Regions from separate parts of the Homo sapiens genome. Here region 1 is linked to region 2. A link means that fine-mapping ties the variant in region 2 to the expression of a gene that starts in the linked region. Tissue or cell type: lung. Region 2 holds a variant in brackets; the other region holds the start of a gene. All regions are shown on one strand. Distances are from middle to middle.

Evidence for each region.
Region 1: TMPRSS9 starts here. The variant in region 2 is fine-mapped to the expression of TMPRSS9 in lung (TOPMed, PIP 0.94).

Annotation. Positions count from the first base shown.
Region 1 is chr19:2,354,492-2,366,259 of GRCh38, forward strand. TMPRSS9 (transmembrane serine protease 9) reads left to right here and starts at 5,774. Exons shown (of 19, transcript NM_001395513.1): 1 at 5,774-5,869. SPPL2B (signal peptide peptidase like 2B) reads left to right here. Exons shown (of 15, transcript NM_152988.3): 15 at 1-604. RefSeq lists a silencer at 4,093-4,304.
Region 2 is chr19:2,389,349-2,401,116 of GRCh38, forward strand. It overlaps TMPRSS9 (transmembrane serine protease 9), which reads left to right. Exons shown (of 19, transcript NM_001395513.1): 2 at 413-579; 3 at 7,191-7,318; 4 at 9,447-9,514; 5 at 9,670-9,845. The coding sequence starts at 438. Among named protein-coding and RNA genes, the nearest start is that of TIMM13, 32 kb to the right of the region's middle. RefSeq lists an enhancer at 5,026-5,115. The variant T/C (reference allele first, on the strand shown) is at 6,614.

The DNA of each region.
Region 1 (11,768 bases), 35 kb before region 2:
TTCTGTCAAGTCAGTCGTCCCCAGCTGCACACGGGGACTGCTGAGCGCTGCGCTCTCACGGGTCTGTTCCGGACAGAGGGTGGCAGGGGTGAGCCCTGATCCCTTACAAAAAATACCAGCTTCCCAGGGAGTAATGGCGCCTTCACTGAAGCCATTTTGTACATGGGGACGGGGTGGGGACGTCTCTTTTTTGGTGTTGGACGTTTGACCAGTGGGGAGGGGTTCAGAGGCGGCGGTCCTGTCCTTGGCTCCGTCTGTCCGTGTGGCCTTGCTGCCATTCCGTCTGATCATTAAACACAGCTTTTGATACATATGGCCCGGCCTCTGCCTCCGCAGTGCACGGCTTGGGGCATCTGCTCTGTGCAGGTCCCGGTGAGCAGAACTGAGAGCTGGCAGGCCGCCTGGCTGTCCTGCAGAGGACGGATTGGAATTGCCACCGCAGGGCCGGCCAGTGCTGTGAGGTGCCCAGCGTCACTCCCATGGGCTCTGTGGGCCATGTGGTCCCTGTCACGCTTCTCAGCTCTGCCACTGTTGCTGGAAAGCATCACAGACCATGTGTAAAATGGGCCAAAATACCTTTTACAAAATTAAAATAGAGATGGGGTCTTGCAGTGTTGCTGAGGCTGATCTCGAACTGCTGAGCTCAGACAATCCTCCTGTCTCGGCCTCCCAAAGCGCTGCAATTACAGGCACGAGCCACCACGCCCATCCCTCAAGTAATTTTCTCGCCAGACCCTGAAATTGGAATTGTATAGCATCCTCACGTCTCAAAAGAGTTTATTATTATTTTTTTCTCTTTAAAAATGCAAAGACCTGTCTTAGCCGCTTTGGGACAAGGTTTGGTTTCCAGCTGCTGCTGGCTGGCGCTGGGCCTGTGGGCACGTGGGTGATGGATGCGGGTTTGTGTGCGGGCCGAGAGGCCAGTGAGTCCTGAGCATCTGCCAGGCATCAGGGGCTGCTGTGTGTGTTGTTCTAGTCTCACAAAGTTCTCCGCTACGTTAGAGAAAGTGAGACCCAGGCTGGGCATGGTGGCTCACGCCTGTAACCCCAGTGCTTTGGGAGGCTGAGGTGGGAGGATTGCTTGAGCCTGGGAGTTTAAGACCAGCCTGGGCAACGTAGCAAGACCCCATTTCTACACAAATTACCTGGGTGTGGTGGCACACACCTGTAGTCCCAGCTGTTCAGGAGGCTGGGGTGGGAGAATTACTTGAGCCCAGGAGGTCAAGGCTGCAGTGAACTGTGATCGCACCACTGCACTCCAGCCTGGGTAACAGAGCGAGACCTTGTCTCCAAAAAAAAAAAAGGCCACCAGCAAGCCTCTGAGGCCACATGGCTGTGAGGGATCAGAGACATGGATTCCTCCAGGCCCTGAGCCAAACCACGACTGCCTGGCAGCGTGACGCCCTTGGCCTTAATGTGGAACAGGGTGAGGACGCAGCGGGAGATGGAGGCTCAGGCCTTACCACTCACAGCAAACCTGAATTCAAACCCACTGGGGAAGGGACGGCTTAATCACGGAAAGCGAATTCCAGAATACTTGAAGTCACACTTAGGTTTCGGTTTTTTAACTTGAGCAGTTCCTCGATACGCTCCAGAAGGAGCACCCCCAATTGCCTTTCCACGGGGGAGCTCACTGCTCGGAGGCCACTCGGCGCTGGCTCTGAACACCTCCCCTGTGTGCCTCTAGTGGTGATTTGTCCTGTCCAGGAAAAGAAAAAGTCGCTATGTCATTAGCTCCGGTGGACCTGAGCCTCAGGGCTGAAAGTTACAGTCAGGACTCAGCGCACAGAGCCCTGGGCTCACACCACGTCCACCTGTGACCACCTGCGGTCGTGGGCAAGTCCCTCTGCCTCCAACTCCCTGTCCTCTGGAAAGAGGGTTAGTAATGTACCTACTGCAAGGCACGACAGCCAGGATGTCACCAAATCAGCCATCTGATTGGACGCTTAGAAGCAGTCGGGACTTTTGTGCTAGTGACACACTTGATTCAGGAAGACGGGCTCCTGCCAGGCTCAGCCGGTGCCTGAGCTCCGGGGGGTGTGCACACCTCGACTGTCCAGGTCACACACGGTCCAGGGATGTCAGGGAGAGGTAGAGCTGGGGAAATGGAAACAGGCTGCTTGTTGGCACTGGGGAGGGTATTTTGTTTCTTTTCGTGGGGAGCATCCCTCTGTCTTGCAGTTTAAGTTACAAAGTGGAGCAATATGGTAACAATAGTGATTTTCTTTCACTAAGCTGACCAGAGCTTACACATTTTTTATCCACCCACCTATCCATCCATTTATCCAACTGGCCATCCACCCATCCATCCATCCACCCACCCACCCATTTATGTAACCATCCATCCATCCGTCCGTCCGTCTGTCCATCCATCCATCCGTCCATGCATCCATCCACCCACCCACCCACCCATTTATGCAACCATCTGTCCACACATTTATCCATCTGTTCATCCACACACCCACCCATTCACCCACCTGTCTGTTCAGTTATCCATCCGTCCATACACATACCCTCCATCCACTCATTTATCCAACCATCTATCCACACACCCATCCACCCATTTATCCACCCATTCATCCACCCATTCACCTATCCACCCACTCATCCATTTATCTACCCATCCATCCACTCATTCATCTATCCACCCATCCATTTATCCAACATCCATCCACACACCCATCCATCTATCCGTCCATCCACCCGCCCACCCACCCACCCATCCACACACCTATCCATTTATCCAACCATCCATCCACCTATCCACATACCCATCCACCCAGTTATCCAACCACCCATCCACTTATCCACATATCCATCCATCCAGCCACCCATCCACACACCCATCCACCTACTTATCCACCCATCCGTCTCCATCCATTGATCCACCATCCATTTGTCCATCCATTTACCCATTCACACATCTATTCATCCATCCATCCATCCATCCATCCATCCATCCATCCATCCATCCATCCATCTACACACCCAACCATCCACTCACCCACACACCCACCCATCCACACACCCATTCATCCATCTATCCATCCATCCATCCATCCATCCATCCATCCATCCATCCATTCATCCATCCATTCAACCACCCACTCACCCATCTATCCACCCATCCACCCATCTACCCATTCATTCATCCACCCACCCACCCATTTATCCATCCATCCACCTATCCACCCACCCACCAATCCATCCATCCATCTACCTGCCCATCTAGCCATTCATCCATCTACCCACCCCTCCACTCATCCATCCATTTGCCCATCCATCCACCCATTATTTACCCCTCCACCCATCCATCCATCTGCCCACCCACCCATCCATCCATCTACCCACCCACCCATCCATCCATTTGCCCTTCCATTCAACCATCCATCCACCCACCTTCCACCCACCCACCCACTCATCCATTTACCCATCTATCCACCTGTCTACTCACCCACCCATCCATCCATCCATCCACCCATCCACTCATCCATTCATCCACCCACTCACCCACCCATCCACACACACACCCATCTATCCATTTATCCACACACACACCCATCTATCCATTTATCCACACACACACCCATCTATCCATTCACCCATTTACCGTCCGTCTGTCCATCCATCCATCCATCCCTCCATCCACCCAACCACCCATCCACCCATCCACACACACTCATCCACCCACCACTCTTCACTGCTGTGTGCCAGGTCCTCTACTAAGCACCCCGTCTGGCCCAGGCAGAGAGCTGCTATAGCTGCACGAGGAACCGGGACTCAGTGTTTGGGGCCAGGTGGGAAGTCATCAGAAGGTGAGAGGGTGGAGTTCTGGAAAGAGTCCACCAATGGCCCTGAGGAAGAGAGGAGGGGGTTCCCATGGGGTCACAGGCTCTTCTCCACACGGCTCAGAGCAGGTTAGAAATGCCTCTTGGGAACCAACCGCAGCCTGCAGCCTGACAGGAGGGTGGGCAGAAGAATGCAGCAATAGGAGGCCCTGGGTGTGGAGCCCCAGCTTGAATCCCAGGAGCTGGATGACTGGCTCTCAGGGCTGTAGCCACTTCTTCTGCTTAAAAGGAGGTGACAGCTACTTTTGTGAGGCCATCATGAGAACCTAGGGGAGTCCCTGCCGAGTGCCGGGCACACAGCACATACTCAGTAGACTGGACCATTCTGCGGGCGACTGGGGAAACGTGGACCCAGGAGCTGGATCCTCCAGGACTGCTCTCCCTCCAGCACCAGGCGTGGCTCCCCGGGACTTGCGGCACTTCTCAAAAGCAAATCACCAACAAAGACGCTCTGCCAAAGGTAATAAAATGGGGCTGGTCTCTAAAGGCAGTTCCAAAAAAAATTTCCGCAAAGTCTCTTGAGATAAGAGAGGAGACAGTGGTTCTAACGAAGTGCACCGTCTCCTTCGACGGCACGGAGGAACGTGAACAACCTGGTGACCTAAGCAGGAGGGGCGGCCAGCGTGGCAGCGGGTGGCGCGTCAAAACTGAGGCCACCCAGTCTGACCATGAGGGAGAAAAGCACCAGACAAACCCACTTGAGGCGTGTCCTGCAAAACACCTGACCTGCCTTCCCCAGGAGCGGGCAGGGTGTCAGAAATAGGAATGTCTGGGAAACTGCGACAGCCCAGAGAGATCCGAGGAGGCGTGACGCCTAAATGCCACGTGGGATCTCGGGTGGGGCCCTGAGCAGGAAAGGGCATTGGGGGAAACTGAGGAAACTGGAATCAAGTGTGGACTTCACAGTCGTGCATCAATAGTTGTTCATTGGTTGTGACAAATGTATCACACTGGCCTGGATGCCAGTAACAGGGGACCCGGGATGTGGCGCACAGGGGAGTTCTGAACTGTCTTTGCACATTTTGTGGGAATCTAAAACTCTTCTAAAACGTTTAGGCTGGGCACGTTGCTGACTCCTGTAATCCCAGCGCTTTGGGAGGTCGAGGTGGGAGGATGGCTTGAGCCCAGGAGTTCGAGACCAGCCTGGGCAACATGGCAAGACCCCATCTCTATTTTTTTAAAAAATTAAAAATTTATATTAAAAATACTGTAGTTCCTTCCCGGGCAACATGGTGAGACCCCCATCTCTACTAAAAATACAAAAATTAGCCTGGTGTGGTGGCAGGCGGCTGTAGTCTCAGCTACTCCAGACTCTGAGGTGGGAGGATCACCTGAGCCCGGGAGGTCAAGGCTGCAGTGAGCTAAGATCGCGCCACTGCAATCCAGCCTGGGCGACAGAGAATGAGACCCTGTCTCAAAACACACACACACACACACACACACACACACACACAAAATGGTTACACCAGTGCCCTAGAAAACGCCCTCAGCACCTCGCCCCCAGGGCTGTCCTGGGCACACCCCTCCCTGCGCCCTGTCCTGAGTCACCTGCCCAGGTGGGCCCACCTGCCCACAGCGCCCACTCTGCGGGCAACCCCCACCCCATGGCTCCCAGCTGCGAAGCCCACTCCCATCCCTGGCTACCCCCAACCCCTCCCCATCTCCATCGTCTTCCACTCTGGGTTGGCTCCCGCCAGGGTTGGGAATCCAGGGTGGAGGTGGCAGAGCCCTGGGACCCCTGTCCTCCGGAGACTCCAAGCCTGGGCGGCACCCCCGGCCCGGAGCAGGAGGTACTGGGGAAGGGGCTTGGCAGGGGGCCGGGGGAGGGGCGGCTCCCCCACCCGGCCCCGCCCCGCCCCTCCCTTCCTCCAGCCCCGGGCCCAGCTCCGGCTTCTGCTCCACTTCGGGGTGGGCGGGATCCGGGCAGTAGCGGTGCAGCCTCGTCGTCCGGAGCGCGGTGAGTCGGGGTCTCCTGCGGGCTCAGCCTCCCCTCGGAACAGCCCCCACTTCCTCCAACCCCGGTGAGTCGGGGTCTCCTGCGGGCTCAGCCTCCCCTCGGAACAGCCCCCACTTCCTCCAACCCCATTCGCCAAGCCCCGGGGCTGTTTGGTTGCCTCTGGGGCTGTGTAGAGGTGGCGTGGCGGGAGTGTGTAGATGCAGCCAGGCTGTGTAGACACCACCGGGGTTGTGGAGAGGCAGCCGGGGCTGTGTGGACGCCACTGGGGTGTGTAGACATGGCCAGGTTGTGTAGATGCGGCCAGGGTTGTGTGGACTCAGGTGCCGCGTGTAGATGTGGCCGGGGTTGTGTGGACGCAGGTGCGGCGTGTAGATGCGGCAGGGGTTGTGTGGACGCAGGTGTGGTGTGTAGATGCGGCGGGGGTTATGTGGACGCAGGTGTGGCGTGTGGATGCGGCCGGGGTTGTGTGGACTCAGGTGTGGTGTGTAGATGCACGTAGGGTTGTGTGGACGCAGCCGGGATTGTGTGGATGTATCTAGCGTGTGTAGATGTGGCTGAGATTTCTAGACGAGGCCAGGCTGGGTAGATGCCGCCAGGGTGTGTGGACGTAGCCGGGATTGTGTGGATGCAGCTGAGATGTGTAGATACAGCTGGGGTGTGTAGATTCGGCCTAGTTCCTGGAGGGGCCTGGGACCGCCGAAGCCCTCCCCATCCCTGTTCCCACCCAGAGTCCTCCCTTCTTTTCTACCCGTGAACTTCACCTAAAGCAAGAACCAAGCATCAGCCTGGAGCCCTCTGGGGTCAGGGGTGGCGGGAAAGGGGCTGACAGCTACTGGGATGGGGTGCAGGGCTGGGGTGGGAGGTGAGTCTGGGGTGTGGTGCGGGGCTGGGGTGGGAGGCTGGGGTGGGAGGTGGGGCTGGGGTGGGAGGCTGGGGTGGGAGGTGGGGCTGGGGTAGGGTGCAGGGTTGGGATGGGGTGGGGTGCTGGGATGGGTTGGTGGGGTGCAGGGCTGGGATGGGTTGGTGGGGTGGGGTGCGGGGCTGGGATGGGGTGGGAGGTGAGTCTGGGGTGGGAGGGGGGGCTGGGGTGGGAGGCGGGGCTGGAGTGGGTGCCAGGCATCTGACTGGAGCCTCTCCTCCCGCCCCAGTTCTCACCCTCGGAGCCGCTTCTGAGTAAACACACACTGGGATGTAACAATTGGAGGTGGGTGAAGGGCCTGAGATGGGGTGGGTTGTTGGTATTTGCCTGAGGGAGGGTCCTCCTGGATTCAATTAGCCCCGGCAGGAAACCCAGGCTGGGGACCGTGGCGTTATCCCCGCATGACCGGGAATGACCCACATTCTGGGAATTAGGGCGGGGTCCCCAGGACAGGCGTCCGTGCTCGAGGGTCCTCTGTGGCCCAGGGACCTTCGACTTCCTTCCGTCATTTTATAGGGGGTCAAACCAGGCCTCGGACCCAGGCATGGGCTCCAGAGGTTGCCAGAGGTTTTGGGGACTTGCCAAAGGGTTCAGGCACTGCCCCGCAGGACTGCATGGCCGGAAACACCTTGTGGGCCGCGTGGTGGCCACCGCCTTGCAGATCAGGGATGCCCCGCAGGACACCTGTGGTCCTGGCTTCCTGACGCCTTCCTGGGGGCCTGGCTGGGTGGGGCTGTGTGAGATTCTGGGTGAGTTGTCTGTGTGGCTGTGTGTGATTGTGTGTGATCATGTGATTGTGTGTGATGTGTGGTTGTGTGTGGCAATATATATAATTGTGTCTGTAGCTGCATATGGCCATGTGATTTGTGTGTGATTGTGTATTATATGTGTGTGTGGGGTCATGAGTGATCGTTTATGTTGTGTAATTGTGTGATTGTGTATGGTTGTGTGTGGTCATGTGTCATGTCATGCGTGATTGTGTATGGTTGTGTAATTGTGTGGTCGGGTGGGATCGTATATGGTTGTGTGTCGATGGCTGTATAACTGTGTGTATAGTTGTGTGGTCATGTGTGGTTGCGTATAGTTATGTCATGATGTTTGTGTGATTGTATAGGATTGTGTGTGGTTGTGCGAGATTGTGTGACTGTGCAGCCATGTGTGTCATTGTGCCTGTGATTGTGGTGGAGGTGTAATTGTGTGTATGGGTGTGTGACTGCATGTGTGAGACCGTGTATGGTTGTGTGTTGTATGGGAGGTTTCTGCAGCTGTGTGGTTATAGTGTACGGTTGTGTGTGTGATTGCATGATGAGAATTGCATGATTTTGTGGATGGCTTTGTGTGGTTGTGTATGGTTGTATAATTGTGTTTGTGTGTGATTGCATATGATTGTGGCAATATGTGTAATCGTGTCTGTATGACTGTGTATGGTGGAGTTGTGATTGTATCAGTGTATGACTATATGTGTGAAGTTGTGTTTAGCTGTATGGTCATTGTATGTGAGATTTGTGGAGTTGTAACGTGGTTGTGTGTGTACTTGCATGATGAGATTGTGTATAATTTGTGGATGGTGGAGTGAGGTTGTGTGTGGTTGTATGTGGTTGTGTGAGGTGTGTTTTGTGAGGGTGTGTGTGGTTGTGGTGTGTGGTTGTGTGAGGTTGTAATGTGTGGTTGTGTTTGGTTGTGTGAGGTTGTGTGTGGTAATGTGTTGTGTGTGGTTGTGTGTTGTGTGTGTGTTGTGTGAGGTTGTGGTTGTGTGTGCAAATCCCCTCTTCCTAGTCTTCTCATCTGGGGCATGGGGATCAGGGTCCCAGCGCTCAGGCTGGCCTGACCGTGGGGTAATTGGGCCCTGCAGAGCCTCACGCCGCCTGCTTGTCCTGCCACGCGGAATGGGAGTCCGTGTGTGCCCCGCTGCCCACAGCGTGTGAACGTGAGTTGGGGACCATGTGGCCCACTGCGCGCTGGGTCCCGTCCCTAAAGAGCATTCTTGGACTGTCTAAAATTCCCTTTGCAGAATTTGGAATGTTTAGGGTGTAAAATACGGAGCTTGGAGAGTCCTTAGGCAAAAGGTGTTGGTGGCCGGTTGCCCAGGCTGGGGACTCTGTCCGCGGGGCGAGAGCTTGCAGGAACGCTGGAGCATCGGAGTTCAAACCCTGTTGTCACTGTGGTTGGTTAAGGGCTTTGCGGAGACGTGGAGGCATGGTAGATGGATCGCAGGTGAGGGCGGAATGAAGGCAAAGGCGTCCCTTCTCTGATGGCAGACACATGGGTGGAGATTTGAGGTAGGAGCAGTTGTGGGGGGGTGGGGGGACAGGCGAGAGTGTGGGAGGGAGTGAGGTCGCGTGATTCCCCGTGCATCTGTGCGTGCAACTGTGGGTGATGGAGCTGGTGCTTGGGGAGGCAGGACTGGACCCTGGGTGCCGACACTGGGGCAGGGTTTAGAGCTCCCGGCCCTGCGCCCCTCGGTCCCCCAGGCTCACCTGGCTTAGCTGGGGAGCAGGGTTCTCGGGGAGCATAACAGGGAAGCTGCCCAGCAATGTGGAGGAGTCACTAGAATTCCAAGAACTCTGTGTGTGAGTGTGTGTGTGTGTGCGTGCGCGCGTGTGTGTGTGAGAGAGAGAGAGAGAGTGAGAGTGGGAGGGAGGGAGGGAGGGAGAGGCAGAGAGAGCCTTAATCTCCTCCTCTGTAAATGGGCATGCTGATATTAGCTGGACCTGTCTCCTGTATACCCTGGGATTATTGGGAGGGCTGGATCAACTCTCATAAGCCTATGAGCCCTACACCAACAGGACGCTGTTGGTATAAGCACATCTCAGCCTCCCGGTAGTCCTGTAGACCCAGCACCTGTAGTCCCAGCTACTCAGGAGGCTGAGATGGGAGGATCGCTTGAGCCCGGGAGTTGGAGGCTGCAGTGAACTGTGATCACACCACTGCACTCCAGCCTGGGTGACGGAGTGAGACCCTGTCTCAAATAAATAAGTGAATGAATGAATGAATGAATGAATGAAAGACGCATAAATAGAAGAAATTTAGAAGCCCAAGAATGAAGCTGAGGCGAACCTTGGGGTTTTATTGAAGTTGATGGTTGACGCAGCCCTGCAGGCTGTTCTAAGCCATTGATGTTTCTGTGTGTTGCTCTGAAATGGATGCAGAGGATAACATATTCTGGGTGATCCACTCATAACTGCATAAGGCTTCCTTTGTTGTTGTTGTTTTGCAGAGATGGGATCTCACTATGTTGATCAGGCTGGTCTTGAATTCCTGGGCTCAAGGAATCCTCCCACCTTGGCCTCCCAAAGTGCTGAGATTACAGGCGGGAGCCACGGCACCCAGCCCTTTGTTGTTTTGTTTACACTTTACCTTTATGAAAAAAAAAATTGGGGGGGATAATTTTAGTTGTGAAGATGGTGCAGAGAGTCCCCGCACACCCACCTTCCACCCAGTGTCCCCTTGCGTTGACACCTTTGACCACAGAACAAAGAGCAAAACTGGGCCGGGAACGGTGGCTCACGCCTGTAATCCCAGCACTTTGGGAGGCTGAGGCGGGCCGATCATGAGGTCAGGAGATCGAGACCATCCTGGCTAACACGCTGAAACCCCATCTCTACTAAAAATACAAAAAAAATTAGCCGGGCCTGGTGGCGGGCGCCTGTAATCTCGGGAGGCTGAAGCAGGAGAATGGCGTGAACCCGGGAGGCAGAGCTTGCAGTGAGCCAGGATCGCGCCACTGCACTCCAGCCTGGGCGACGGAGCGAGACTCCATCTCAAAAAAAAAAAAAAGAGCAAAACTGACGCACGACTGTGGGTGCCACACTCTGTCTTCCCACCAATATTTCTGTTCTACGTTGCAATCCAGGATCCCACATTGCATTTAGGAGCTGTATTAATTTTAAATGATACAACTCATAAGTGATTGGAAGGTTATTTTTTAATCTCTGCGTTTTCCTCTGGGTCCCTTAGTATCACTCATGTTTATCGGCGTCTTCCCTCCCACACGATTACTGACTCCTTTCTCCTCTGTCCACATTATAAAGCTAAAAGAACACAAGATACCATTGCTGCAAATAGTTTTCTCACAAACACCTCTTCCCATGAAAGCCTAACAAAAAGACCATAGACAAAATGAAAAAAAAAAGGAGACCAAGCTTATTAAATTTCCTGTAGGCTTGCTGAGTGATTTATTTCATGATGTTGGGGCGATGGAGGAGGGGAGGATTTCCTGACTAGATTCAGGCCTGAGGACAGGGGACAGGAAGAAATAAGAGAGGCCATGGCGTAGACAACAGCTGTCTGTTCTATAAACGGGCTTTGGCTGCCGTGGGACCAAAGATGCGGAATCGAATGGGATGGACGTGTCCGAAAACTGTGATCATCTTGGATTAGGTGAAGGAAAAAACAAACAAACAAACAAAAAAAACAAAAAAACTACACAGACAGGTGGGCAAGACAGCTAAAGAGCCCAGACCGAGGCTGGGGGCATGATGGTGCAGGCTTGTAGTCCCAGCTATTTGGGAGGCTGAGGCAGGAGGATCACTTGAGCACAGGAAGTTGAGACCAGCTGGGCAACATAGCAAGACCCCATCTGTACAAAAACTAAAAAAATGAGCCAGGCATGGTGGTGTGCACCCATAGCCCCAACTATTTAGGAAGCTGAGGTGGGAGGATTGCTTCAACCCAGGAGTTGGAGGCTGCAGTGAGCTGTGATAACACCACTGCACTCCAGCCTGGGTGATAGAGTGAGATTCTGTCTCAAAATAAATAAATAAATAATTTTAAAAAAGAGATGGAGAAAGAGAAGAGAAGAAATTTAGAAGCTCAAGAATGAAGCTGAGGTGAACCTTTGGGTTTTATTGAAACTGCTTGGAAAAAAAGGGAACCCCCTGAATTTCTCCTTGGAGAGGTTGAACCATGGTTTTGAGCAACTAGAAAACATTGGCCATTAAAAGCAGAGAGTGAGACCCTGTCTCTACCAAAAATTTAAAAAATTAGCCGGGTGTGGTGGTGCACACCTGTAGTCCTAGCTACTCAGGCGGCCGAGGTGGGAGGA
Region 2 (11,768 bases):
ACAGGCATAAGCCACCGCATCTGGTCTTTTTTTTTTTTTTTTTTGGAGTCTCGCTCTGTCACCCGGGCTGGAGTGCAGTAGCGTGATCTCGGTTCACTGCAGCCTCCGCCTCCCGGGTTCAAGCGATTCTCCTGCCTCAGCCTCCTGGGTAGCTGGATTACAGGTGTGCACCAACATGCCTGGCTAATTTTGGATTTTTAGTAGAGATGGGGTTTCTCCATGTTGGCCGGGCTGATCTGGAATTCCCGACCTCAAATCGTCCTCCTGCCTCAGCCTCCCAAAGTGCTGGGATGACAGGCGTGAGCCACCGCGCCCCGCCGTTTTTAAGGGTATAGTTGCAACCCTTGCTTATGGGAAGAGAAGCACCTTCAGCCTCTGACCCCGTGTTTCTGTCTTGCTGTGTGGCATCCAGCTCGCTGTCTGCGTGTCTCTGAGCCATGGAGCCCACTGTGGCTGACGTACACCTCGTGCCCAGGACAACCAAGGAAGTCCCCGCTCTGGATGCCGCGTGCTGTCGAGCGGCCAGCATTGGCGTGGTGGCCACCAGCCTTGTCGTCCTCACCCTGGGAGTCCTTTTGGGTAAGTGGCTATGGGATTGGCTGGGTTCGCAATACAAGGGACATGTGCAAAGTCACCGGGAAGTGACTTGATGGTGTCTCCTTGGCCATCTGGAATCAAAGGGCAGTGTCTAGGCGTGGAGATGAAGGCTGCCCTAGGCCAGGCGGGTGGGCGGGGAGTGGAGCAGATGAGTTCCTACGTGTGTCAGTTTTCCCGACTAAAGAAGCTCCCGAAGGAAGTTTTCACAGCTGGGGTGACAGAGAAACAGAGACAGGGAAATGACCTTGTTTTAAATTTTGGCAAATCAGCAAAATACCCAAAGTAGTTTTTTTTTTTGTTTTTTTTTTTTTTTGAGACGGAGTCTCTCTCTGTCGCCCAGGCTGGAGTGCAGTGGTGTGATATCTCGGCTCACTGCAAGCTCCACCTCCCGGGTTCACACCGTTCTCCTGTGTCAGCCTCCCCGAGTAGCTGGGACTACAGGCGCCCGCCACCACCCCCGGCTAATTTTTTGTATTTTTAGTAGAGACGGGGTTTCACCGTGTTAGCCAGGATGGTCTCGATCTCCTGACCTCATGATCCGCCCGCCTCAGCCTCCCAAAGTGCTGGGATTACAGGCATGAGCCACCGCGCCCGGCCCCAAAAGTATTTTTATAAAACCGAGCAACTGGGTTGGGCGTGGTGGCTCCCGCCTGTAATCCCAGCACTTTGGGAGGCTGAGGCGGGAGGACCATCGGAGCCCAGGAGTTTGAGAACAGCCTAGGCAACATGATAAAGCCCTGCCTCTACAGAAAATACAAAAAATTACCCAGGCGTGGTGGCACCTGCAGTCCCAGCTACTCAGGAGGCTGAGGCAGGAGAATCGCTTGAACCTGGGAGGCAGAGGTTGCAGTGAGCTGAGATCGCACCACTGCACTCCAGCCTGGGTGACAGAGTGAGACTCTATCTCAAAAAATAAAAACATAATAATAAATTTAAAATAAGGCCGGGTGCAGTGGCTCATACCTGTAATCTCAACTTTTTGGGAGGCTGAAGTGAGCAGATCATGAGGTCAGGAGTTCGAGACCACCCTGACCAACATGGTGAAACCCCATCTCTACTAAAAATACAAGAAAGAAAGAAAGAAAGAAAGGGAGGGAGGGAGGGAGGGAGGCAGGCAGGCAGGTAGGCAGGAAGGAAGGAAGATAGCTGAGCATGGTGGTGCACGCCTGTTATCCCAGCTACTTGGGAGGCTGAGGCAGGAGAATTGCTTGAGCCCAGGAGGAGGCAGAGATTGCAGTGAGCCGAGATCATGCCCTTGCAGTCCAGCCTGGGCAACAGAGCAATTCCATCTCAAAAAAAAAAAAAAAAAAAAAAGTTAATTTTAACATTTAAATGATGATAATAAACAGCAATTTGGGGAGAAATGCTCTCGTGTGGCAAAATAGTAAGTTCGCGATCCTATGAGAATCCTCCTAGGTTTTTTTTTTTCTTTTTTCTTTTTTTTAAAAAATATTTGTGGAACTTCTGGAAACTCCCAGAGCCAGACATGTTTGACTGAGGCCCTCTAGTGGCTGTAGGTACCAAGTACAATACAATTTGGGTTCCTCGTGTGAGTGTATTTGTGTGTTCATGAGTGTGTGCATGGTGCACACGTGTTCATTTGCATGCGTTTGTGCATGCATGTGTGTGTCTGCGTGTGTATCTATGTGTGCATGCGTGTGTGTGTGTGTGTGTCCATCACCTAGTGAGAGGCAGGGGCGGGGCAGAGTTTCTCATCTGCATTGTAACAAATACATTTTGGGAAAAACAGATAAATATAATTCCCATCAGGACCCCCCTGAAAGGAAAGGAAGTCTTTTTTTTTTTTTTTGAGATGGAGTCTCACTCTGTCTCCCAGGCGCGACAGAGTGCAGTGGCACAATCTCAGCTCATCACAACCTCCACCACCCAGGTTCAAGCGATTCTCCTGCCTCAGCCTCCTGGGTAGCTGAGATTACAGGTGTGTGCCACTACGCCGAGCTAATTTTTGTATTTTTAGTAGAGATAGGGTTTTGCCATATTGGCCAGGATGGTCTCAAACTGCTGACCTCAAGTGATCCACCTGCCTTGGCCTCCGAAAGTGCTGGGATTACAGACATGAGCCACCACGCCCCATCAGGAAGTCTTTCAAGAAGCACTTAAGGCCAAGTGTGGTGGCTCCTGCCTGTAATCCCAGCACTCTGGGAGGCTGAGGCAGGAGGATTGCTTGAGCTCAGGAGTTCGAGACCAACCTAGGCAACATAGCAAGACCCCATCTCTACAAAAAATTAAATAATGAAGACAAGAAACATTTAAAATTAAAATTTTATAATGTTTTCAGTGAAAATGAGTGGTTGTGCGTGCCAGTAGTCCCTGCTACTCGGGAGACTGAGGTGGGAGGATTGCTTGAGCCCAGGAGTTGGAGCCTGCAGTGAGCTATGATCACACCACTGCACTCCAGCTTGGGAGACAGAGTGACACCCTGATAAAAAATAAAAAAGAAAAAGAAAAAAGGACATGATGCCAGGCGTAGTGGCTCACGCCAGTAATCCCAGCTCTCTGGGACGCTGAAACGGGAGGATTGCTTGAGCCCAGGAGTTCCAGTTCAGCCTGGTAACATGGTGAAACCCTGTCTCTACAAAAAATGCAGAAAATTAGCCAGGGCCGGGCGAAGCCAGCTGGGCTCCTGAGTCGAGTGGGGACTTGAAGAATTGTTATGTCTAGCTGGAGGATTGTATATGCACCAGTGAACACTCTGTGTCTAGCTAATCTGGTGGGGACTTGGATAACTTTTATGTCTAACTAGAGGATTGTAAATGCACCAATAAGCACTCTGTGTCTAGCTCAAGGTTTATAAACACACCAATCAGTGCTCTGTGTCTAGCTAATCTAGTGGGGACTTGGAGAAATTTTAAGTCTAGCTAAAGGTTTGTAAATGCACCAATGAGCACCCTGTGTCTAGCTCAAGGTTTGCAAATGCACCAATCGCACCAATCAGTGTTCTGTGTCTAGCTAATCTAGTGGGGACTTGGAGAACTTTTGTGTCTAGCTAAAGATTTGTAAATGCACCAATCAGCACCCTGCGTCTAGCTCAGGGATTGTAAACACACCAATCAGCACCCTGTCAAAACGGACCAGTCAGCTCTCTGTAAAATGGACCAATCAGCGCTCTGTAAAATGGGCCAATCAGGAGGATGTGGGTGGGGCCAGATAAGGGAATAAAAGCGGACTGCTGGAGCCAGCAGCGGCAACCGGCTTGGGGACCTTTTCACAGTGTAGAGGATTTGTTTTTTAATTCTCTGCGAGAAATCTTGCTGCTGCTCACTCGTTGGGTGTGAGATGCTTTTATGAGCTGTAACACTCACTGTGAAGGTCTGCAGTTTCACTCCTGAGGCCAGCAAAACCACAAACCCACCAGGAGGAATGAACAACTCCAGACACGCTGCCTTAAGAGCTGCAACACTCCCTGGGAAGGTCTACAGCGTCACTCCTGAAGCAAGCAAGACCACGAACCCACCAGAAGGAAGAAATTCCGAACACATCCGAACATCAGCAAGAACAAACTCCGGACACACCATCTTTAAGAAATGTAACACTCAGCGTGAGGATCCGCAGCTTCATTCTTGAAGTCAGTGAGACCAAGAACCCACGAATTTCGGACACAGTAACATGGGGAAACCCTGTCTCTACAAAAGAATGCAAACAATTAGCCAGGGCCAGGCATAGTAGCTCACCCCGGTAATCCCAGCACTTTGGGAGGCTGAGGCAGGTAGATCATGAGGTCAGGAGTTTGAGACCAGCCTGGCCAACATGGGTGAAACCCTGTCTTTACTAAAATACAAAAATTAGCTGGGCAGACTGGTACGCGCCTGTAATCCCAGCTACTCAGGAGGCTGAGGTTGGAGAATTGCTTGAACCCGGGAAGTGGAGGTTGCAGTGAGCCGAGATCATGCCACTGCACTCCAACCTGGGCAACAAAGGGAGACCATGTCTCCAAAAAAAAAAAAAAAAAAAAAAAGCTGGGCGCGGTGGCTCCCACCTGTAATCCCAGCACTCTGGGAGGCCGGGTTGGGCGGATCATGAGGTCAGGAGATTGAAACCATCCTGGCCAACATGATGAAACCCCGTCTCTACTAAAATACAAAAAACATTAGTTGGTCATGGTGGCATGTGCCTGTAGTCCTAGCTACTCGGGAAGCTAAGGCAAGGGAATCGCTTGGACCCAGGAGGCAGAGGTTGCACTGAGCCAAGATCGTGCCACTGCATCCCAGCCTGGCAACAGAGTGTGAGACTGTGTCAAGAAAAGAGAAGGAAAGAGAAAGCTAGCCAGCCAGGCGTGATAGTGGGCGCCTGTGGTCTCTGTGGTCTAGCTACTTGGGAGGCTAAGGCAGGAGGATCACCTGAGCCCATGAGGTCGAGGCTGCAGTGAGCAGTGATTGTGCCACTGCACTGAAGCCCGAACAATAGAGACCTTGTCTCAAAAAAATAAAACATTTAAAAAAATAAAAATGAGAATTCAGCCCTTCGCAAACAGCTCACCATTTTAGTTGGAGATGAGAGGCTGAGTGGAGAGCGGGAGGCGTTCTGAACTATTTCTGCAACTTCCTGAATCTGCAGTTGTTTAGAGTAGAAACAGAGTGAGGTTGGGACACAGAGGCGGGGCAATTCAGTCCGCCCACCAGGGTGCTCGTGTTTCTTTAGTTTCTTGAACGAGAAAACATACCGTTTTTAGAATTGGTTCAGAATATTCTATCTACTGAATATATGGCTACGTAAATACCCATCTAGCATATCTATCCATTTAGGATAAACGGAATTGGGACCCAGCTTTCACGGTTTACGCGGTTGCTATTTGCATGGTTTAAATGTTGTAATTACGGCCATTTTTTTTGCGCTGGTGTGCACTTCTGGTAGTTTTAACGTATTTTTGACCAAAACTCGTGCTCTCATGGTTTCTGTGGTTGCTCTCGTAGTTTTTATTTAGATTTTTTTCTGCTGCTGCTTGCATCAGCATAGGAATTTTTTATGACTATTATTTTTGCTGTACTTTGTACTTTGGACACAACACAGCCAACAGCTAAAAACCAGTGCTTTCTGCCTGGCGTGGTGGCTCACGCCTGTCATCCCGGCACTTTGGCAGGCTGAGGCGGGCAGATCACCTGAGGTCAGGAGTTCCCGACCAGCCTGGCCAATGTGGCGAAACCCCATCTCTGCTAAAAATACAAAAATTAACGCTGGGTGCAGTGGCTCACGCCTGTAATCTCAGCACTTCGGGAGGCCAAGGCGGGTGGATCACCTGAGGTCAGGAGTTCCAGAGCAGCCTGGCCAACATGGTGAAATCCAGTCTGTACTAAAAATACAAAAAAACTAGCCAGGTGTGGTGGTCCACGCCTGTAATCCCAGCTACTCAGCAGGTTGAGGCAGGAGGCTGAGGCAGGAGGATCGCTTGAACCCGGGAGATGGAGGTTGCAGCGAGCTGAGAAAACACCACTGCACTCCAGCCTGGGTGACAGAGTGAGACCCTATCTCAAAACAAACAAGGCCGGGCGCGGTGGCTCATGCCTGTTAATCCCAGTGCTTTGGGAAGCCAAGGCTGGCGGATCATCTGAGGTCGGGAGTTTGAGACCAGCCTGGCCAACATGGAGAAACCCCATCTGTACTAGCTGGGTATGGTGGTGCATGCCTGTAATCTCAGCTACTCCGGAGGCTGAGGCGGCAGGAGAATTGCTTGAACCCGGGAGGCGGAGGTTACAGTGAGGCGAGATCATGCCATTGCACTCCAGTGTGGGCAACAAGAGCAAAACTCTGTCTCAAAACAAACAGGCCGGGTGTGGTGGCTCACGCCTGTAATCTGAGCACTTTGGGAGGCCGAGGAGGGCGGATCACGAGGTCAGGAGATAGAGACCATCCTGGCTAACACAGTGAAATCCCGTCTCTACTAAAAATACAAAAAAATTAGCCACGCGTGGTCGTGGGTGCCTGTAGTCCCAGCTACTCGGGAGGCTGAGGCAGGAGAATGGCATGAACCCGGGAGGCGCAGCTTGCAGTGAGCCGAGAT[T/C]GCGCCACCGCACTCCAGCCTGGGCGACAGAGCGAGACTCTGTCTCAAACAAACAAACACAAACCAACCAGTGGTTTTTGAAGATGACCTCATGGGACTGTGGCCGGAGAGTCCTGATGGCCTCTGGCTGTGCTCATGCCCCTGCCATAGGAGGCGGGGACTGTCATTTCACCGTCTCCTGATGCCATTCCAGAGGTTACGCCCTGAAGTCAGCTCAGATCCTGGGCCAGGCACTGCATGGGAGACAGGCATGAGCAGGACCTCTTTCTGCCTTCGAGGAAAACACGGGGGCATCTGGGGCTCACTTGGCACTCATCCACCTTGTGCTGTACCTGGGGACCTCCGGGTGGGTGGCTGTCATAGAATTCGGCTCCAAACCAGGATGCTTTTGGGAATTGAGGGAGAGCCCTGTGAGTAGCTATTCAGGGCTATCACGGGGGCGTCGACCACCCCACTGCGTGTCAGGAGTGACCACCAGGGTGTGTGAGTGCAAACAGGGCGGGGCCTGGGTGGCAGCTCAGCGGAGCCCTGAGCCCCCAAAGGTGGGCTCTCTCACGGGCCCTGGTCTCGTCCCCAGCCTTCCTCTCTACACAGGGCTTCCACGTGGACCACACGGCCGAGCTGCGGGGAATCCGGTGGACCAGCAGTTTGCGGCGGGAGACCTCGGACTATCACCGCACGCTGACGCCCACCCTGGAGGCACTGGTGAGGGTGGTCTGTGTTTGGGGGCCAGGGAGGAAGAGCGGGTGGCCGGGGGCTTTGACCTGGAGGTGCTTTCCGTGTGGGAGGGAGGCAGGCCACAGGCAACGAAGCTGAGGTGGAGGCTGTGAGACCGGGAGGCCAGGCCAGGGGGCGGGCAGGACGAGGCCAGGTGGCCAAGGCAGATACCTGCAAGGCAGAGCTGTATCCACTGAGGACACACTCACATGGGACTTTAGGCCACATTTAGAGGTTTTTTTTTTTTTCTTTTTTTTCTTGAGACGGAGTCTCACTCTGTCACCCAGGCTGGGGTGCAGTGGAATGATCTCGGCTCACTGCAAGCTCCGCTGCTCAGGTTCAAGCGATTCTCCTGCCTCAGCCTCCCGAGTAGCTGGGATTACAGGTGCACGCCACCACGTCCAGCTGATTTTTGTATTTTTAGTAGAGACGGGGTTTCACCATGTAGGACAGGATGGTCTTGAACTCCTGACCTCAAATGATCTTCCCTCCACGGCCTCCCAAAGTGCTGGGATTACAGGCGTGAGTCACCGTACCCAACCTGCCACATTTAGAGTTTTACATTTTATTCTAAAGGGGAATCAGAGCCCTCATGCACAGCTGGGGGAAGGTATTTTATTTTATTTTTTTGAGACGGAGTCTTGCTCTGTTGTCCAGGCTGGAGTGCAGTGGCAGGATCATGGCTCACTGCAACCTCTGCCTCCCGGGTTCAAGCGATTCTCCTGTCTCAGCCTCCTGAGTAGCCAGGGTTACAGGCACCCACCACCTAGGATGAACAGGGAAACACAGCGTGGCTATGCACACACTGGAATATGACTCAGCCAGGAAAAGGGGCCAGGCTTGGACACAGGACACAGCGAATTATATTTTAATGAAAAAATAATGTTTTCCATTTTATTCGAAGAGAAACAGACGTGTGACCACATCAGCAATCACGTATTAAAAACAGCACTCCAGGCGGGCACGGTGGGTGGCTCACATCTGTAATCCCAGCACTTTGGGAGGCCGAGGAGAGTGGATACCTGAGGTCAGGAGTTTTGAGACCAGCCTGAGCAACATGACAAAATCCCACCATTAGTAAAAACACAAAAATTAGCGGGGCGTGGTGGTGTGTGCCTGTAGTCTCAGCTACTCGGGAGGCTGAGGTGGGAGGATTGCCTGAGCCCAGGAGGCAGAAGTTGCAGTGAGCCAAGATCGTGCCATTGCACTCCAGCCTGGGTGACCGAGTGAGACTCCATCTTAAAAAACAATTTTTAAAAATAGGCTGGGCGTGGTGGCTCACGCCTGTGACGCCTCCTGGGCTCAAGCAATCCTCCCACCTCAGCCTCCCGAGTAGCTGGGAGTGCAGGCACACACCACCATGCCCAGCTAATTTGGGAGGCTGAGGTGGGCGGATCACGAGGTCAGGAGTTCAAGACCAGCCTGGCCAACATAGTGAAACCCTGTCCCTACTAAAAAATACAAAAAATTAGCCACGCATGGTGGTGTGTGCCTGTAATCCCAGCTACTTGGGAGGCTGAGGCAGGAGAATTGCTTGAACCTGAGAGACGGAAGTTGCAATGAGCCGAGATCGTGCCACTGCACTCCACCCCAGGCGACAGAGCAAGACTCTGTCTCAAAATAATAATAATAATAAAAAATTTAAAAATAAAACATAAGTCTGGGCGTGGTGGCTCACAACTGTAATCCTAGCACTGTGGAAAACCAAGGCAGGTGGATCACAAGGTCAGGAGTTCGAGACCAGCCTGGCCAACATAGTGAAACCCCATTTCTACTAAAAATACAAAAAATTAGTTGGGCATGGTGGCGGGCACCTGTAATCCCAGCTTCTTGGGAGGCTGAGGCAGCAGAATCGCTTGAACCTGGGAGGCGGAGGTTGCAGTGAGTGGAGAATGCACTACTGCACTCCAGCCTGGGTGACAGAGCAAGACTCTGTCTCACAATACATACATACATACATACGTACATATAGATAAAAATTTAAAATAATAAAAGGAAATGCTTTCCCATGGAACCAACCCCTTCTCCAGCTCCCTCCAACACCTGACAGGCCTCTGCAGTGCCAGGGTGCCCATGCTGTGGGTCTCAACATTTGATATTCTTGTTTCTATTGCAGTTTGTAAGTAGTTTTCAGAAGACAGAGTTAGAGGCAAGCTGCGTGGGTTGCTCGGTACTGAATTATAGGTGAGTTGGAGCTTCCATTGGGTGAAGGAAACTTGGTGGACATCTGGGAGTTTCTGGAGGAGTCCAGAAAAGTTTGGAAGATTCTAGAAGATTCCAGAAGATTCCAGCAGGGCGGAGCCCCTCCCTCTCCAAGGGCCTCTCCTCCATACCTGTAGGGATGGGAACTCCAGTGTCCTCGTACATTTCCAGCTGCACTTTCTGCTGCGACCCCTCCAGACGCTGAGCCTGGGCCTGGAGGAGGAGCTATTGCAGCGAGGGATCCGGGCAAGGCTGCGGGAGCACGGCATCTCCCTGGCTGCCTATGGCACAATTGTGTCGGCTGAGCTCACAGGTGAGTGGGCAGCCGAGACCGAAACCCCATCACGAGGAGGCTGGAGTGGGGCAGGAGCTGCAAGATACATTTTGATAACCACCCCTTCCCATAAAAAGAAAACAAACTGGCCGGGTGTGGTGGCTCATGCCTGCAACCCCAGCATTTTGGGAGGCCGAGGCGGGTGGATCACCTGAGGTCAGGAGTTTGAGACCAGCCTGGCCAACACCCCATCTGTACTAAAAATACAAAAATCAGTTGGGCGTGGTGGTGTGCACCTGTAATCCTACCTACACAGGAGGCTGAGGCAGGAGAACTGCTTCAACCTGGGAGGCGGAGGTTGCAGTGAGCCGAGATCGTGCCATTGCACTCCAGCCTGGGCAAAAAGAGTGAAACTTCGTTTCAAAAACAAACAAACAAACAAATGTAAAAACTGACATTGCCTTTGCCTTAATGGTGTGGATAAGGGGTCAGCCATCTTGTTCTGTAAAGAGCCAGAGTGTTGTGTTGTGTTGTGTTGTCTTGTCTTGTCTTCTCTTTTCTTTTCCATTTTTTTTATTTTTGAGACAGGATCTCACTCTGTTGCCCAGTCTGGAGTGCAATAATGAAGTCTTGGCTCACTGCAGCTTCTGCCTCCCAGGTTCAAGCAATTTTCCTGCCTCAGTAGCTCCCGACTCACTCCCGAGTAGCTGGGATTACAGGCACGCACCACCACGCCTGGCTAATTTTTGTATTTTTAGTGAGATGGGGTTTCACCATGTGTACTGGGCTGGTCTTGGACTCCTGACCTCAGGTGATCCTCCTGCCTTGGCCTCCCAAAGTGCTGGGATTATAGGTGTGAGCCACGTGCCCAGTTAATATTTTCATCTTTGTGGTCCGTTGGGTTTCTGTGACAAGCACTCAGCTCTGTTATTTGTAGCACAAAAGTAGCCACAGACAATACATAAATGAATAGGTGTGGCTGTTTACCAATAAAACTTATTAAAAATAACAAGCAGTGGGCTGGATTTGGCCTATGGCCGTAGTTGGCCAACCCCCTACTGTAGAATCAAGGATAAATGCTACACTCTAATAAAATTGTATGGAAGGCCGGGTGTGGTGGCTTATGCCTGTAATTCCAGCAATTTGGGAGGCCAAGGTGGGCTGATCACTTCAGATCAGGAGTTCGAGACCAGCCTGGCCAACATGGCGAAACCCCGTCTCTACTAAAAATACAAAAATGAGCTGGGTGTGGTGGCACGTGCCTGTAATCCCAGCTGCTCAGGAGGCTGAGGCAGGAGAATTGCTGGAACCCAGGAGGCGGAGGTTGCAGTGAGCCAAGGTTGCACTACTGCACTCCAGCCTGGGTGACAGAGTGAGACTCCATCTCAAAAAAAAATTAATAAAAATAAAAAATAAAATTATACAGTGCATGATTTTGTATGCACCTGGTTTTAAAAAATAAAAAACAAAATTGTACGGTGCAGCAGGTCATGATTGGAGAGTCAGATGCAAGTTCAGACCATTGTTAAAGATTTGTTGCCAGGTGTGGTGGCTCATGCCTGTAATCCCAGCACTTTGGGAGGCCGAGGTGGGTGGATCACCTGAGGTCAGGAGTTTGAGACCAGCCGGGCCAACACGGTGAAACCCCATCTCTACTAAAAATAAAAAAATTAGCCGGGCATGGTGGCGGGCGCCTATAATCCCAGCTACTTGGGAGGCTGAGGCAGGAGAATTGCTTAAACCTGGTGGAGGTGGAGGTTGCAGTGAGCCAAGATAGCACCACTGCACTGTAGCCTGGGTAACAGAGTGAGACTCTGTCTTAAAAAAAAAAAAAAAATGGCCGGGCGCGGTGGCTTACGCCTGTAATCCCAGCACTTTAGGAGGCCGAGGTGGGCAGATCACAAGGTCAGGAGATCGAGACCATCCTGGCTAACACGGTGAAACCCCGTCTCTACTAAAAAT